Linked DNA regions of Homo sapiens. The protein of the gene in region 2 interacts with the protein of the main gene of each other region in a pairwise test. Each region holds a gene or a part of one and is shown on either strand. Other genes may lie near its edges.

Region 1 (3,802 bases), on a different chromosome or scaffold from region 2:
ATTATCTCAGCGTATCACAGATAGTAAAAATGAGTACTGTTTCATAAAAATTTTCATTTTATCTATATATCAATATGTGTGCCTCTGTGTGTGTACTTGATTACAATGTAAATTTAGTTCTTATTGTAGACTGCGGTCAAAGAAGTTTAAAAGCCGCCATCCTCGGGAACACCCAGTGAGTACCAGTGTGTGCGGGTAACCAGTAGTCCCATCCCAAACAGCCCAGAGAAAGGCTTTCCCAGCACCGGGCTTCCAGAATCCTGTGCTAAGCTGACAGTACAGAAGAGGCAGCCAACAGGGCTCTGAATCCCAAGTGCCTGAAGGAGGAATGAAACAATCTCACCAGAGAGGAAAGGACAGCTGTGACAGTCACCCTCCCTGAACAAGACCACTGAGACCAGGGATGGACATCTTCCAAGCTAACCTACAGTGCAGGTAAGAATGGGAAGCTGCATTTTTAGATAACTATCCATTAGAAACCAGGACGACATATGAACAGTGTATCTTGGTAGCCTTGGATGCTCAAGGATGAGAAACCCTGGGCAAACCAGGCAAAAATTCTCAACCACAGGACAGGACAAACTGGCCCAAAGGTTCCTTAGTTACAGAGTAAGTAAGAAGAAGCTGTAATTCTACCCCATCTGGGAACATTAGGAAAAAGACAACATCTGATACTCTGATTTCAGTAGAACTGGATTCTTCCAAAAATATAAATGTCAAAGTCACCCATTCACAGTATAATTTGTACCAAAGTGCAAAATGGGGTATGTATGTGTGCCAAAGAACAAAATCTACCAGAACTGAGCTGCTAGGGCAAAATTACAACAGAAACTTAAAATAATATATTGTCCCATCCACCTGCCAAAACATTAGCTCAAAGACATTCCTCCTTTAAATACAGTTTTACTAATTATAAGAATAGTCATTCAATAAATATTTCTTGAGCACTATTTTAGGTGCCACAAACACTGCAGTGAGAAAAACAAAGTCCAATTTTTCCAGTCTTTTCTTTCTGTGCAAATACATATATCTCATTAAGCTAACACGGAACATGGGAAATTGCACCCAGATGGTTTCACTTTTAACATTAAAGTTTCTCCCACAAAATCAAATGTTCTTTGAAAACGCCATTCTTACTGGCTACATAGTATTCTAACATGGAAATGGTATCATGATTTACTGAAAGACACTCCCAAATGCTTACCACAAGATAAAAACACAAAGGAGAGACATCATTAAATAGAACGTTAGACCTAGATTCAGAGCCTTAAGGAAAAAGAAGAAAAAAAAGGAAAATACAATCTTACAAATCTCAGAGACCCCACTATTTTCCTCCACAGGGATGAATATTCACATCCACACCACTGGCCACATCAAGCTCTAATTTGTGCATCTCCCTTTATAAGCCCCACTCCCTCTTTGATCGAAGAGAACATTGTCTGCACAGAACAATACGTTTTCATTTCAATTTCCCTTCTTTTCAGGAAAGGAAATGTTTGCACTTCAAAGGGTTTCTTTGAAGAGTAGCCCTTCAGCTCTGGCCCGTCCAGGTTGGGCGTTACGTGGACTCAGCAGGGTGTGTGGAGTCTGGGCGGCTGCCCACCGAAGTCACTCTCAAGGCCAGCTCCTTCAAGGAGAGGGTCTGGGGCCGGAGTAGAAAAAACAAACACATGGAAAAATACTCAAGGCTTTTGATCATGACCTTCAGAGGCCCATTTTCACACATAACATAGACTTACAGCTCAGGGAAACTGAGGTACAAATGATGGGGAGCTGAGGACAATGACGTAGTAGCTTCTAAGAACAAAATCCTTCCAGAAACCAGACTCGCTTAGCAAAGACCCGTTCTGGGCCAGGAAAGGGGAGAGCCACTCTCAGTTCCAGCTGTTATGGCGAATGGACCACCTAAGCGGACAAAGCAGGGAAGCGAGATCCAAACTTCACTACCTGCACCAGTTTTAAAACCTTTCCCTAGGAACTTTTGAGAAGCACAGTCATTGGCAAACAGCAAACTTCACATGGTAAAATTTCACATTTTATTTCTTCCGTAGCCCACTGGTAGGGGCCAAGAGGCTCATTAAAAGGCAAGTCTAACAACCACATGAAGCACCCAAGAGCTCACTGATATGGGGCCAGTGCTGTTTCCCTCAATCACGCTCCAGGCCCCATCCTTAACCTCTGCCAAGTCCAGGAAGCAAGGGGTATAGACCAGACAAGAGTGGGCCTGCAACATTTCTTTTCAAGTCTCAAACAAGTTCTGGATATTTATTAACGATCTCCACCCTTCCCCACCTGGAGGATATGCACCACAAAGGCACCACCAAGGCTGGTTAAGTCTGCCTGCTCGGTGGGCACCTGCCCAAGGGGTGGGCAGGAGCATGAAAGACCGTCAGCTCCAGACAGGGGCCGGCTCCTCCCACAGCCCCAGGACTTGGCTGCGGGGCTCCTGACTAGTGTGTGGGTGGTGGAGGGATCACGAGTCTGTGTGGCCAGGTCACCAGAGCTGAAGGAGCTGAGAAAGTCTTTCCACCACCTTTCTGGTCGATCACTCAGCCTCTGAGCTGGAATTATGAATGGGTTTTATTTTCTCCTTCTTTTAATTTTCTGTAGTTTCCAAATTTTCCACAACAAACATTCTAACTTTTAGAAACACTTTTTCTTAAAAAGGCTTATGAGGTAGAAAATCACACCTCTTTTGAAAGAACCCCCACACTGCAAAACTCCTTCCCCAAAAATACTTAGCTATAAAGGACATTATGTGGACGACTGCAAGTCAAATATGGACTGTGGCCTAGATCGCAGGGTTGTATTAATGTTAAATTTCCTGACTTTGCTATTGTACCATGGTTATGTGAGAGAAGAGCCTTGTTCTTAGGAAATATACACTGAAGTATAGAGGGCAAATAAAATGGCATGACGTCTTCAGCTGACTCTCAAATGGTTCAGAAAAAAATGTATGTGTCTGTGTGCATGTGAGTTTGTGTGGGGTGGAGAGAGAATAGAAGGAGGCAAAACATAACCCACCTGTGCATCTGAGAGACGGTACCCAGGAGTTCCTTGCACTCCTGCAAATTTTCTTTTCTTTTCTTTCTTTTTTTTTTTTTGAGACAGTATCTCACTCTGTTACCCAGGCTGGAGTGCAGTGGTGTGATCTCGGCTCCCTGCAACCTCCGCCTCCCGGGTTCAAGTGATTCCTGTGTCTCAGCCTCCCGAGTAGCTGCAACTATAGGCATGCGCCACCAACACCAGGCTAACTTTTGTATTTTTCGTAGACATGAGTTTCACCATGTTGGCCAGGGCTGGTCTCAAACTCCTGGCCTCAAGTGATCTGTTTGCCTCAGCCTCCCAAAGTGCTGGGATTACAGGCGTGAGCCACCATGCCTGGCCTCTGCAACTTTTCTTTAAGTTTGAAATGTTATCCAAAAACTGCTGAAAAAGAAAAGGGGAAAAGGAGAAGGGCAAAAGGGATGAGGGAAGAGTTCTCCTAACTCTAACTGCCAGTCTTTCCCAGGGGCCTTCACTGGGTCCCAGAAACTGCACCCTAACGCCCCCAGCTCCTAGACCAGGCCTCATCCCAAGGGAGGGCAGGAGGTGTCCCTGACACTGTGGAAAAGCTGCGGGCCAGGAAGACTCTCCCAAGTCACTTTGGGGAAGACGGGCCCTTGCTGCAGGCCCTGGTGTGGACAGCTCCTGCCCCAGCCTCTCTGAGAGTGTTAAAGATGCATCCTCTAAGGAAAGGGGGCACCTCCGCAAGATATTGTAGAAATCAGCAAAGCCAAGCCAAGGGCAGGATGACAGCGGC
Region 2 (4,470 bases):
CCCGGGAGGCAGAGGTTGCAGTGAGCCGAGATTGCACCACTGCACTCCAGCCTGAGCAACAGAGTGAGACTCCGTTGTCTTTAAAGGCCAATCCCATAGCAAATGACAGAGACTCACTTGAGTAAGAAAGGTTTTTGACAAGAAAACCCACAGAAGAAGAGATAAGCTGTGGATATAAGAAAGGCACTACAATCTGTATTTAAATCTAATTGCACACTAGATAATATATGTATGAAAAATTATTTAATCCAGTTTCCTGATTTCATTATATATTTCTTATAAGGTTTTCATTAGGCTTTTGTTTTTGTTTTTGGTTTTAAATAAAAACACTTTATTGCACAAATCCCACAAAGGTCTCAGGCCCTGGGTCCAAGCCCACAGCCCCAACCTGTCCCCTGGCTCTGGGCCTGGTCTTTGGTGCCCACCCTGGCCTCACATGCCAACGTCTTCTGTGGAGTGTGCAGGTGTCCATGAGCGTTCCTGTGTTGGGGGAAGCCTGCCTGGGCCACAAGTAGTCAGGCACTGTGGCAGCCTCACGATGAAGACAGGTGGGGTGGAGTTGGGTCCCCACCTGCCCAGGCTCAGGGGCCACAGGGGTCTACACAGTCCTTTCTGCTTTGAAACACGTGGTAGATGCTGGTGGGAGGGAACATGGCACCGGCACCAAGCAGGGAGCCCACTTGGATGGCCACACCAGCTGCCAGCAATGCCGGCCGACCCCCACCATGCAGCAGGGAGCTTGCAGCCACCTTCACATATGAGAACACACACAGACACAGCACCCACGACAGCACCTGCAAGGGAGGACACAGCAGCAGGCTGAGCATGACATGCACTTGCTCCAGGGGACACCCTCCTCCCCACTTCATGTCTCCACTTGCTCACCACAAGGACCACCCCTGCAGTGGTGCCCACCAGGGGTGGGCAGGGGCTCAGGATTGCCAGTGCCATCAGGTAGGCCCCAAAGAGCATGCCCAGCAGAGAAAGACCAACCAGCCCTGCCAGGGACCTGTTGGGGATGAGCAGAGACTCAGGGCTGGCTGTTCTGGGACCTGGACCCCAACCTTAAGTTCCACCCACCAAGCCTGGGGACCCTTTTGCACCTGCACAGCACGCCCATGGCCAGGAAGCAGGCAAGGGGGTTGGCGGCACTGCCCAGCACCACAGCCAGGTGGTAGGCCAGGCGCCCATAGGGCAAACAGGAAAAGCTCTGCACAGAAGGCAGCACGCCATTGGTCACGGCACTGGTGAAGGCCATCAGGCCCAGCAGGAAGGCACCATGGGCTGAGAACAGCTGATGGGCCTCAGGGTCTGGGCCAGGGATGGTGCCTGCTGCCTGGCTCGGTGGCTCCTGCAATGGCAAAGCCTCTTCTTCCTCCTTCTCTTCCTCCTCTGCTCCTGGGGATCCCAGTTGAAGTTCAGGCCCTGAGCCCCCTGTGGTTACAGAGGGTAGTGATGGCAACAGCAACAGGAGACCCCGGAAGGCGGCAGCTGAAGTGACCAGAAGGGCAGTCAGTGCCCAGAAGAAGGTGCTGGCAGGAAAACGCTCAGGGAAGTCGAGGGGAGGCCCAGAGGTGCCATTGGTGGGCGCTGGTGGGCACTCGAGGCGGCCCACACCTTGCACTAGGGCCAGCACACAGGGGAGTAGGGCACTGAGACCCTGACCCAGGAAGAAAGACCGTAAGAAAGGAGGTGGCAGGTGGCTCAGGAAGGGCAGGAAAGTGACATTAGAGGTACAACAGGCCATTGCCAACACCAAGGCCAGAGTTAGGAAGGCCACAGAGTGGAGCTGCCCTGCCACTGGGGCCACGTGGTGCCACAGAGGGGCCAGCAGGGCTGTGCCCACTACACTCAGCACCTGTACCACCTGGATGGGGACCTGCTCGCCCTTGCCCGGGGCCAGCTGCCTCCACAGGGTCACCACCAGCAGACCCAGGTTTCCCAGCGCCACAACCACAGAGAGGTATGAGGGGAGGCTCCAACCTGCAGGGAAGGAATGATGCCATGTCAGGAGCACAGTGGCTAAGGGACAAAGAGCTGCCACAGGCCACCTTTCTGGGCATACCTGCCCCACGCTTCCCTGTACCTCCCTCCCACTCACCCTCTGGAAGGTCTTTTACCACCACAGGCAGCTCCACCCAGATCCCGTTCACAGCAGCCCAGGAGCCCATGCCAAAAAGGGCCACCAGCAGGTGGGTCAGCACCAGACGGCCCAGCGTGGGTGCTGCCATTCAGCCCAAAGCTGGACCCTCCAGGACAGGGCAAAGGTCACAGGCAGGTCCTTCCCTAGGTAGGTCCAAAGATGCTTTGGTTCTTCTGGAAACTGAAGACCTTCTAGCTGGAGGGAAACAGACAGGCTGGCAGGTAATAGGCTGGTGGGACAGAACCGGAGTCAGAAGACAAGTCGGTCAGACTGCTAAGACCAGGGCAACTGGAGGGAGAGGTGGCCGGGGGCGGGCGGGGAAGGTGGGGAGCCAGGACTTACCACGGGGCACCGGCTGTGCGTTTGGGTACAGCGACCCAGCAGTGCCGGCAGGCAGACAGGCAGAAAGCTGGCCCGAGGTGCAGCTGCCCCAGAGGAGCAAAGAGGGAGCTGATTTTCCTACCCACAGAGGACCCGGGGTCCAAGTTGTCAAAACAGCTCAGCACTGGCCGGGTGCGGTGGCTCACACCTGTAATCCCAGCACTTTGGGAAGCTGAGGAAGGCAGATCGCCTGAGGTCAGGAGATTGAGACCATCCTGGCCAACATGGTGAAAACCCGTCTCTACTAAAAATACAAAAATTAGCTGGTCGTGGTGGTGGGTGCCAGTAATCCCAGCTACTCAGGAGGCTGAGGCAGGAGATTCACTTGAACCCGGAAGGTGGAGGTTGCAGTGAGCCAAGATCACACCACTGCATTCCAGCCTGGGCGACAGAACGAGATTCGGTCTCAAAAACAAAACAAAACAAAACAAAACAAAAAAACAGCTCGGCACCAACACGCTCACCCTCAAATGGACCCCGGGACAAGGGCACGTCTCTGGTGCCACTTGCAACCCTAGCGCTTTTGCGACACTCAGGACTTGCTGAGGCAGGTCGAGTTGGAGAGGGGAGTGGCTGGGGCGGGCTCTGCCCGGAGGGGCGTCTCCGTGCTGCCCTCCCGCCTGCCTCAGGGGGGCATCCCGGGAGCCGCCAGGTGCGCAGGGGTCCCCGCACCTCCGGATCCGGCAGTCCCCGGACCCAGCGGCTGGCGGTCTGCCTGAGAGGGAGCCCCCTCCGCCGGGGAGGCGGCCCAGCCCAGAGCCCACACAGCTGGGGTTTTGTTGTTTGTTGTTTTAATTAATTAATTAATTTTGAGACGGGGTCTCACTCTGTCACCCAGGCTAGAGCGCAGCGGTGCGCGATCGCGGCTCACTACAGCCTCAACCTCCCAAGCTCAAGGGATCCTCCCACTCAGCCTCTCCCCACCCCCCCACAAGTAGCTGGGACCACAGGCGAGCATCACCATGTCCAGCTAATTTTTTTTTTTTTTTTTTTTTTTTTTGGTAGAGACAAGGTCTCACTATGTTGCTCAGGCTGGCTTGGCACTCCTGGGCTCAAGCAATCTTCCTACCTCAGCCTCCCAAGTAGCTGGGACTACAGACGCACCACACCTAGCTACCGCCACGCTCAGCTGTTTTTACACTTTTTTTTTTTTTTTTTTTTTTTGAGACGGAGTTTTGCTCTTGTTGCCCAGGCTGGAGTGCAATGGCACGAGCCTCTGCCTCCCGGGTTCAAGCCATTCTCCTGCCTCAGCCTCCCGAGTAGCTGGAATTACAGGCGCCCACCACCATGCCCTGCTAATTTTTGTCTTTTTAGTGCACAGGGTCTCGCCATGTTAGCTAGGCTGGTCTTGAACTCCTGACCTCAGGTGATCCACCTGCCCCGGCCTCCCAAAGTGTTGGGGATTACAGGCGTGAGCCACCGTGCCTGGCCAGCTGTTTTTACACTTTTAAATGGTTGAAAAAAAATTAGCTGGACGTGGTGTGCACACCTGGCTAATTTTTGCTTTTTTTTTTTTTTTTTTTTTTTTTTGAGACGGAGTCTCGCTCTGTCGCCCAGGCTGGAGTGCAGTGGCGCGATCTCGGCTCACTGCAAGCTCCACCTTCCAGGTTCACGCCATTCTCCTGCCTCAGACTCCCGAGTAGCTGGGATTACAGACGCCTGCCACCACGCCTGGATAATTTTTGTATTTTTCGTAGAGATGGGGTTTCACCATATTGGCCAGGCTCGTCTCGAACTCCTGACCTCAGGTGATCCGCCCGCCTCAGCCTCCCAAAGTGCTGGGATTACAGGCGTGAGCCACCATGTCTGGCCCTTTAATGATATTTTGTACTTGTTTACTCACTGACCATCTCAGGGATTACCCTGACCTACTACCCATTTTTGTATGGCCTGCTAGCTAAGACAGGTTTTCACATATTTATTTATTTATTTTTATTACTATTTTT

Evidence for each region.
Region 1: the proteins of SLC52A1 (region 2) and SLC7A1 interact in binary tests that used the Homo sapiens proteins (3 or more experiments, as listed by UniProt).

Annotation. Positions count from the first base shown.
Region 1 is NC_000013.11:29,585,418-29,589,219, forward strand, and holds part of SLC7A1 (high affinity cationic amino acid transporter 1), read right to left. Parts: intron 1,376-3,802; exon of another isoform or gene 1,308-1,375; intron 1-1,307. UniProt on the Homo sapiens protein: High-affinity, low capacity permease involved in the transport of the cationic amino acids (arginine, lysine and ornithine) in non-hepatic tissues.
Region 2 is NC_000017.11:5,032,376-5,036,845, forward strand, and holds SLC52A1 (solute carrier family 52, riboflavin transporter, member 1 precursor), read right to left. Parts: upstream 3,052-4,470; 5' UTR 2,486-3,051; intron 2,373-2,485; exon of another isoform or gene 2,339-2,372; 5' UTR 2,232-2,338; coding exon 2,102-2,231; intron 1,984-2,101; coding exon 1,104-1,983; intron 1,010-1,103; coding exon 886-1,009; intron 795-885; coding exon 582-794; 3' UTR 227-581; downstream 1-226. UniProt on the Homo sapiens protein: Plasma membrane transporter mediating the uptake by cells of the water soluble vitamin B2/riboflavin that plays a key role in biochemical oxidation-reduction reactions of the carbohydrate, lipid, and amino acid metabolism.